Linked DNA regions of Homo sapiens: regions 2 and 3 are each linked to region 1. Evidence: fine-mapped expression QTL. A gene starts in region 1. Each other region holds a variant in brackets. All regions are shown on one strand. Distances are between the middles of the regions.

Region 1 (2,759 bases):
TATCCAAGGCTAAATACACTTTTACAATACAATGAAACTGTTAAGCAGAATTCTCTAAAAAAGCTCGATTAACCATCCTTACAGGTCACAGAAAACGTTTTTGCAGAGTTCTAGCTTTGGGATTTCAAATTCCATTGTTTTCTGGAGGCTGAATTTGACGTTATCCCTCTCTACAAATGCTTTTCAAAGGACAGAAAGAAGCCAGACAGAACACGCTTCCCTGCACTATCCGACTCTGCCTAACATTCACTCAGGCAAGACTTCAGAACAGATCTAATCATGCAGGATGAGCAAAGCAGACCACCACCTAGGAAAGCAAGCCAAAATCAGTCTTCCCCACCCTCAACAGATTCCAGTTGCTCAGGAGCTGTATCCACGCTCAACCTGCGGACACCGGCCTCCTAAAGAACCTGCAGACCAAACGCCCACCTAAGGTGCTGCCACTCTAGCTCCCGGAGCTCCAGCGAGACCAGCGCGCCCCCACAGGGATCCCGGGGCAGAGAAAAGAAAACTGCAGAACAAACGCACTGCTTCTTCAACTAGGCAACAACACCGATCAATCCTCCAACTAAGCATTGAGTAAATCTCATCCAGAGAGAAGGAGACCTGAACAAAAACGTTTCAGGATGCTGCCCAGCCTGCGCGGTAGCACCAAAGCCCTCTCCCGCCCTCAGCGGACCCAGCGCCTGCGGAGCCGCGCCCACCCCGAGAGACTGCCCGGGGGCCAGCTAACTCGCCCCGTCGCCCCCAAAAGACTGGAGACCATGCCAAGTTACCGCCCCGCTCCGGGCAAAGCAGAAACCCCGGCCAGACGCTGGTCGCCGCTACACACCCTCAGCCCCCAACAACCCCCCAAGGCGGCCCCGGCCCCAGCGGAACGGATACATCGCTCTCTCACCCGGAGACACCGATGAACAGACCCCTCTCCCCAGAACCCGGACACACTGCTTCTTCATCCCAGCAATGCGAAACGGACGCCCACGCCCGCTCAAAGAACCCCCAAGACCCCGATGATCTGCCTCCAGAGACAAGGTTTACACCGGTGTAAACCTTGCTAAACTGCATTCTCTGCCCCAAAGAGCTCGGGACCCGGGTAAAAAGACCCCTTGTCCCGGAACCCCGCTACACCACCTCCAAGAAGCTCAAGACCCTGATAAATCTCCCTCGACGTCAAAGACCTAGGACCCCGTGTGCCGCCACCCACCCCTACCCCAAGCCGGAAGAGCCCCCAGGATCCCTAATACATTGCCCCCTCACCTCGGGAGCTCCGGCACCCGCTACACCGCCCTTGGGCGCCCGCGCCCGGATCCCACTGCACCGCCTCCTCGCCCCCCGGACTCCCAAACCCCGCCAAGCCTCGCGCCCACCAGGCAGCGCCGCGCAGCCCCCAGAGCCGCCCCCGTCAGGAGCCCGCCTGCTCCGGCTGCTCCGTGTCCCCGCTCCCCGACCGCTCCTCAGCGGAGACGCGCTCCGGGCTTTCTAACCTGAGCAGCGTCGGAGGGCGAGCAGACACGGGAGCCCTGAGGAAGAGAAGGAGACAGCAGAGAAGGGGTGGCTCAGGCCTGCGGTGCCGCAGCTCCAGCCTCTCGGCAAGGAAGCGCTTGTGTGAGGAGAGCCCTCCCGCTCCGCGCGCAGCCGGGAGACCGAGCCACCGCCGTGCCCGCAGCTCTTCCCGCGAGATCCCAGCCACGGCAAGGGGCGGGGCCACGGCGGGGGGCGGTAGCGGCAGCTCCTCGAGTGACAGTCCTGGCAGCCTGTCGGCTGCAGGACGGGCGGCAGGACTCGGAGTCTACTACGACCAATTGTAAAAAAGGAAAGGTGATTCTCCCCGCCCCTTCTCCGCCCCTCTTCTTCTCCGCTCCTCCTTAATAAACTGTGAGCAAAGGTAGTAGTGACCAGAAGTAGTAGGAGGCAGTGGACTTTCGCGGTAAGGTAGCTCGAATGACGTGACGTGCTTGGCTTGTGTGTGGTCCTGCTAGGCCGCCGTAGATACACCTGGTTTGGGGAAGAGGCTGGTCTTCACACCGGTGTAAACCGAGGTGCGGTTACCCTTGGTTACAGCGCTGCCCGAAGTGCGCTGGGGATTCCCATCTTCCAGGTTGAAGGCCCACCCACTCCGGTTACCCGCGTCTAAACCTCCATTTAATTCCTTTCCCCGATTTGGGCCTCTCCTCCCTCTCCACCTCAAACAGGGCACCATTGTTAAGATGCCCATGTTTTCCAAACCCCAACCCAGGACATCTGGTCTGACAAAGAACTCGTCTGATGACTGTATTTATTTCTACATACAGCCTTCCAGAAGAATGAAAAGCAAATCTCGAGTTACCAACATAACAAATTCCAAAATTAATGAAAAGTCGTACCTTTATAGACCCCAGTGCCCAGTAGTATTTGGCACACCCAGGGCACTGAATAATGTGAAAGGAATGAATTAAGACTGTTAAATATATGCAAATCTCGAGTTACCAACATAACAAATTCCAACATTACATGAAAAGTCGTACCTTTGTAGACCCCAGTGCCCAGTAGTATTTGGCACACCCAGGGCACTGAATAAGGTGAAAGGAATGAATTAAGACTGTTATACTTAAATATATTAAATCTGGACCTGGCCCCAGAAAATTCGGCTTTCCTAGCCTTTCCTCTATAATGTGAGCCAGTGGCTTCACCCTTAAATCCAGGCTCTTCATTATTATGCCTATCCTGTACCTTCATTCATCTTACCCTCTTCACTCCCTCACCCACAGCAAGAAGTGCCC
Region 2 (2,759 bases), 130 kb before region 1:
TGTGGTCCCTAGCCCTGAGTAGCCCTTTATGGGACTGTAGCAGAATCCCCTGGAGGGCCCTCCATCAGTTGGAGGACACAACTGATTTTGGGCCCCACCCACAGAGCTCCTGATTCAGTAGGTCTGGGTTGGAGCTGAGAGGCTGCACTTCTCAGAAACTCCTAGGAGAGCCGCTGCTTGGGAACCACATTTTGGGAACCACTGGTGTAGGGCAGTGGGCCTCAAACTTTAATGTGCCTTCACCTGTTCTGGAGAATCTTGCTAAAATGCAGGTTCTGAAGTATGAATGGGCTTGTTGATTTGTGGATATGTCTACTGCCTGACTCCTCTGTTAGAATGCATGGTCCCTGAAAGCAGGGGCTCTGCTGTGATTGCCCCTGCTGGGTCCCCAGACCCTGGAGCTGAGCCTGGCTATAGATACCCAATAAACATCTGTGGCATGGATGGGCTTGGAGCCCATGAGAACAGTTTAGGCCAGACACAGTGATGTGGGTGTCTTGGGTGCCCTTGCTGATGCCACAGAAGTAAATTAAATCCCACAGGGACAGAATGAGGGCCAGGAAGGAAAAGGGGAAGGAAAGGATCCCCAGGGACCTCCACCCCAGGAGAGGGACTCAGCAGGAGTGTCAGTGAAGGAGACGGCCAGGGGAGGAAGGCGTTCCCGTTGGAAGGAAAGGCAGCAGCACCAAGAGCTGAGAGCCAGAGGAGGCTTCTGGGAAAGGCTGTTGAGAGGGAAAACTGAGGTACATGACTTCCACTGCTGGGGGTCTCCACAGTGGCATCTCTTACAAGAAGGGCTGAATGATGACTGGAGGGGGGGCTCAGATATATGTCTATGTTTTTCTCTCATCGCTTAAATAATTTATAAAAATAATATGTGTGTGTTGGAAAATATTTAGGAAAAGTCTAAGAAATAGAAAGAAAAAAAATGAAATTTCTATAATTGCCACACCCAGAAATGAGGCCTGTTTATATTTTAATGTATTTCAGTGTTTGTTGAACACATGTACGTAACATATACACAATTTTCCTTCAAGTTTGGATTAATATTGTGTATATCTTTAAATTCTCTTTCTTTTACTTAATACATTTTTCCAAAACTATTTTTCATGTTATTTTAAAGTGCAAAACATAATTCTTAAGGGATGGATAATAACCTTTTGCACAAATACACCCTAATTTATTTAACTAATCACTTATTTTTGAGTATTTAGATCATTTTGTTGTGGTTTTAATTTATATTACCCTTAGACTATGATGTTCAGCATCTTTGCGTGTGTGTGTGTGTGTGTGTGTGTGTGTGTGTGTGT[T/GTGTGTT]TGTCATTCTCATTTCTTCTTTGGTGAAGTATCTATTCAGTCTTTTGCCTATTTTTAATTGGCAAAATGTACTTATTTTCTCACTGTTGAGTCTTTTTATGTCCTTTGTCAAATATATGATTTGTAAATATTTTCTGCCAGTCTGTGGTTTGTGTTTTCATTTTCACTTTTTTTTCAGAGCAAACATTTTTAATATTGATAAAATCTCATTTATCATTTTTTTCTTATAGATTATTCCTTTAGTATCTGAAGGTCACACATATTTTCTCCTATATTTTCTAGAAGTTTCATAGGTTTATGTTTTACACTTAGGACTATAATCCATTTTGAGTTCATTTTTGTGTAAGGTGTGGGTATGTGAGATCCTTTCTTTTTTGTTTTGAATATAGATATGTGAGTGGAAAAAAGCCACAAATTGAAAATGTTTTTTATCTGCTCTCACATCACAACAATCAACACAGAAGACTTCTGTGCCCACATATGTGAGGATTTCTCTCACCAGCAAACAAGCAATCAGTTCTGCAGTGGACACCAGCTGGGTGTCCTCCGATTCAGTTCTGACACTCTCTACCTAAAGACCGCGTCCGATCCCAGAGGTTGAGGGCTCTGGGTGTCCTCCGATTCAGTTCTGACACTCTCTACCTAAAGACCGCGTCAGATCCCAGAGGTTGAGGGCTCAGTCTCACAAGACTGCCCCCCGACTTCCGCCGCCAACCGCAAGCCCCTGGTTGTTTTACCTGTGCTTCTGACCAAGCAGGTATAAATCAGGGTCCCCACTACCCTCCCCCTGGGTTTGATTAATTTGCTGGAGCGGTTCTACAGAGCTCAGGGGAACACTGCTTATGTTTACTGATTTATTATAAGGAATATTATAAAGGATACCGATGAGGCGACACATAGGGTGAGATATGGGGAAGGGGGACAGAATTTTCATGTCCTCCTCAGATGCAGCATTCTCCGTAAACCCCACGTGTTCAGCTACCGAGAAGCTCCTGTACCCCTTCCTCCTGGGCCTTTTTTTTTTTTTTTTTTTTTTTGAGACGGAGTCTTGCTCTGTCGCCCAGGCTGGAGTGCAGTGGTGCAATCTCGGCTCACTGCAAGCTCCGCCTCCCAGGTTCACGCTATTCTCCTGCCTCAGCCTCCCAAGTAGCTGGGACTACAGGCGCCCACCACCACGCCCGGCTAATTTTTTTTTTTTTTTTTTTTTTTTTTTTGGATTTTTAGTAGAGACGAGGTTTCACCGTGTTAACCAGGATGGCCTCAATCACCTGACCTCGTGATCCACCTGCCCCAGCCTCCCAAAGTGCTGGGATTACAGGCGTGAGCCACCGCGCCCGGCCTGTTTTTTGTTTTTTTTTTTTTTTTTTTTAGACAGGGTCTCGCCCTGTTGCCCAGGCTGGAGTGCAGTGGTGCAGTCTTGGTTCATTGCAGCCTCAACTCCCCAGGCTC
Region 3 (2,759 bases), 29 kb after region 1:
ATATATTTAACCTTGTCCTGGAGACCAGCTCACTGACAAACAAAACAAAATGCCCTCTCTGCCCTACCCAAGGACAGGAAGAGTATGGGCAGGTATCATAGCATTCTCAAGCACCCCACCCTCTGTGGTAGCCCTTGCTCTCAATTGCCTGGTAGATGCATCCACCTCAAAGCAACAAGTCCCAAATAGCAAGCATCACCTTCCTCATGCTCTGGCTCCCTTTCCTGATAATCCTGATGGAGACAGGATAGCCTAGTGGCTGAGGATACAAGGCCTGCGACGCAGACTGCTGGGTTCACGTTCCAGTTCTACCATTTACTTGCTGGGTGACCTTGGGCTAGTTACTTAAGTCTCTCTGTACCTCAGTTTGCCTATCTGCCTAATGGGGAGAATAGTGGTACCTGCCTCATGGAACTATTCTGAGGATTACATTCGTTAATACACTGTATATACAGATTAAGCACCATACAAATATGAGCTATTAGCATTTCCATGGTTCTGCACACAGGGCCCTTCTGACTCTTCCCAGGCCCAAAATGTGGGGCAGGCTTGGCTCCAGTCACACTAGTTCATGACTCTGGGCCCCAACTACGCTTTATACTTCTGGTCTTGCCTTTGCTTATGCCATAGCCTCTTCTGAGACTGTTTCCCACCCCTTCCCCTATCCTTCATCTTCTCTTCCATTCTGCCTCTCCCTGAGTGGCCCCCGTGGACCCCTGCTGAGGGGGGCTTTCCCTCTTCAGAAATCTTAAAGCAACACCTCCTCCGTCTTTTGCAGGGTTCACTCCCAGGCATGGCCTTGCACTGCCGATTGCCTTCTGTTTTTCATGAAGAAGAAGGGTTCACTTTTCAAAAGTTTAATTTTAGGAGCCTTGAATTTAGCTTCCTACCACTGGGTCGGCTCTCCTAATAGAGTCAGTCGCCACAGATAGTAACACCCTGTTCCTCTTTCCTTCCTTCAATGTTTAAAGTTACTGATTCACTTTCAAGAGTGGCTCTTTTTAAACTGTGTGATGACATTTTCTCCCTAGCAAAGGCCTTGAGGGCATTGTTCAAGCACCTCCCCAGGGTACCTTGAGAACTGCTCAATAAAGATGGCTCTATTGGTTAATCGAGTGACTGGCTGATCAAAAGACCTTCCAACAATCTGTGTGCAGGGCTGTAGAGCCAGCTCAGGGAGCAGG[A/G]AGCCTGGTCACAGGGCTGCAGTATCCTGGTCCCAGAGAGGAAGTGAATCTCAACTTCTGTAAGCCCTCCACCCTAGTGTCTCTCATCTTACTGCAGTTTCCCCTTTCCCTGGGGCACACTTAGGTCCCAACTGGCTCCTGCAAGCAACCTGCTGGGCTCCTGCTCCATCAGGGCCAAAAAACCCATCTCCTATAAGTGCTGGTGCTGCCTTGATGAATTCTGCCTGGCAGGAGGACTGTGGCCCGGTTGTCCAATCGATAATGCCCAGCAGAGGCCTTTTGAGAACAGAGCCAAAGAAAAATAGCAAGCGTTGTTTGCTTAGTAAATGAAACTTTGCTAGGGACAGTATTTTCCTTCTTTCTCTTTTTTATCTTAGCAACTTGTCAGTTATTCTTGCTTCTCTTTCCTCTTCTTTTGCCCCTCCTCTGCCTCTTCTCTCTCTCTCAACTCTGTCCTACAGCAGCAAGGCAATAGCTTTTAGCATTGTTACTTGTGCCTCAAATAATTCTTGGAAGATGAAATATAAAATAAATGAATGGATGAGGCCAGGTGTGGTGTCTCACGCCTGTAATCCCAGCACTTTGGGAGGCCGAGGCAGGTGGATTACCTGAGGTCAGGAGTTCAAGACCAGCCTGGTCAATATGGCAAAACCCTGTCTCTACTAAAAATACAAAAATTAGCAAGGCATGGTGGCAGGTGCCTATAATCCCAGCTACTCAGGAGGCTGAGGCAGGAAAATCACTTGAACCCAGGAGGCGGAGGTTGTGGTGAGCCAAGATCGCAACACTGTACTCTTGCCTAGGTGACAGAGCAAGTGTTAAAAAACAAAAAAGAAAAGAAAGAAAAAAAGAGAAAAGAATGGATGAATGGATGGATTAATGCATCACAGTAAGCTGAGCACATGTCACTTGAACTTGTCTGCCCATTTTTTAAAGGGATTCTTTTTTCACCTAGTTTTCCAAAGTCATAAGGATAGAGACAAATTAAATGCTGGACAAACCTTCCTAACAATGCTGTTTTCTTTAAATTAGGGATTTCCTCACTCGTGTTTGTGGGTTGAGTTTGTCAGGCTATTGTGTCCTTCCTGGGTAATTTATCTGTAATCTAGGTATGCTGTCACCAGGAGGTGGGTAGGTGGTGCTCCCCTGTGGCCTGCTATCCAAATGTCTAGGGTTTCCATAGTCAACGTTAAGAAACACAAAGTTAACTTACTTTGTTCAATTCCCTTGTTTAACAGTTGGGGAAACTAAGAGTTAGTGGGATTAGGGGACTGGCCCACAGTCATGCAGTGAGTTAGCAAGAGCCAAGGCTAAGGAAGACAAACAGCATGAGTTTCCTGGAGCCTGGAGCAGGGTTATTTGGGATTGGAATCCATCGAGGGCTGTCTTTGCCTGGAAGGGTAAAGAAAATTCCGATGATCAAAATCTCAAAGGAGCCCCCACACTTAAGCCACCTTCCTCTTCTAATGTCTAATTTCTAGTTTGCTAACATTTGGTTGAACAGGAGAGTGGAGGTTTCTCCTCCTTCAGATGCATTTTTTAAAGGCAAAAGGAAAAATAAAAGAAACAGAAGAG

Direction of the effects. Positions count from the first base shown, and alleles are read on the strand shown. Sizes are in standard deviations (SD) of each study's normalised expression. Not every link is listed here.
With allele T in place of GTGTGTT in region 2, the expression in CD4 T cells of the gene that starts at base 1,607 in region 1 is lower (large effect, 1.4 SD a copy in BLUEPRINT).

Evidence for each region. PIP is the estimated chance that this variant, and not a neighbour inherited with it, causes the effect.
Region 2: its variant is fine-mapped to the expression of GLCE in CD4 T cells (BLUEPRINT, PIP 0.95).
Region 3: its variant is fine-mapped to the expression of GLCE in blood mononuclear cells (TOPMed, PIP above 0.99). The same link has a PIP of 0.9 or more in monocytes and whole blood.

Annotation. Positions count from the first base shown.
Region 1 is chr15:69,159,483-69,162,241 of GRCh38, reverse strand. GLCE (glucuronic acid epimerase) reads right to left here and starts at 1,607. Exons shown (of 5, transcript NM_015554.3): 1 at 1,485-1,607. It also overlaps the pseudogene LOC100421574. RefSeq lists silencers at 1,228-1,337, 1,538-1,747 and an enhancer at 1,445-1,945.
Region 2 is chr15:69,285,227-69,287,985 of GRCh38, reverse strand. All of the region lies in intron 2 of PAQR5-DT (PAQR5 divergent transcript), which reads left to right. Among named protein-coding and RNA genes, the nearest start is that of PAQR5-DT, 12 kb to the left of the region's middle. The variant T/GTGTGTT (reference allele first, on the strand shown) is at 1,311.
Region 3 is chr15:69,130,230-69,132,988 of GRCh38, reverse strand. No RefSeq gene overlaps it. Among named protein-coding and RNA genes, the nearest start is that of GLCE, 29 kb to the left of the region's middle. The variant A/G (reference allele first, on the strand shown) is at 1,185.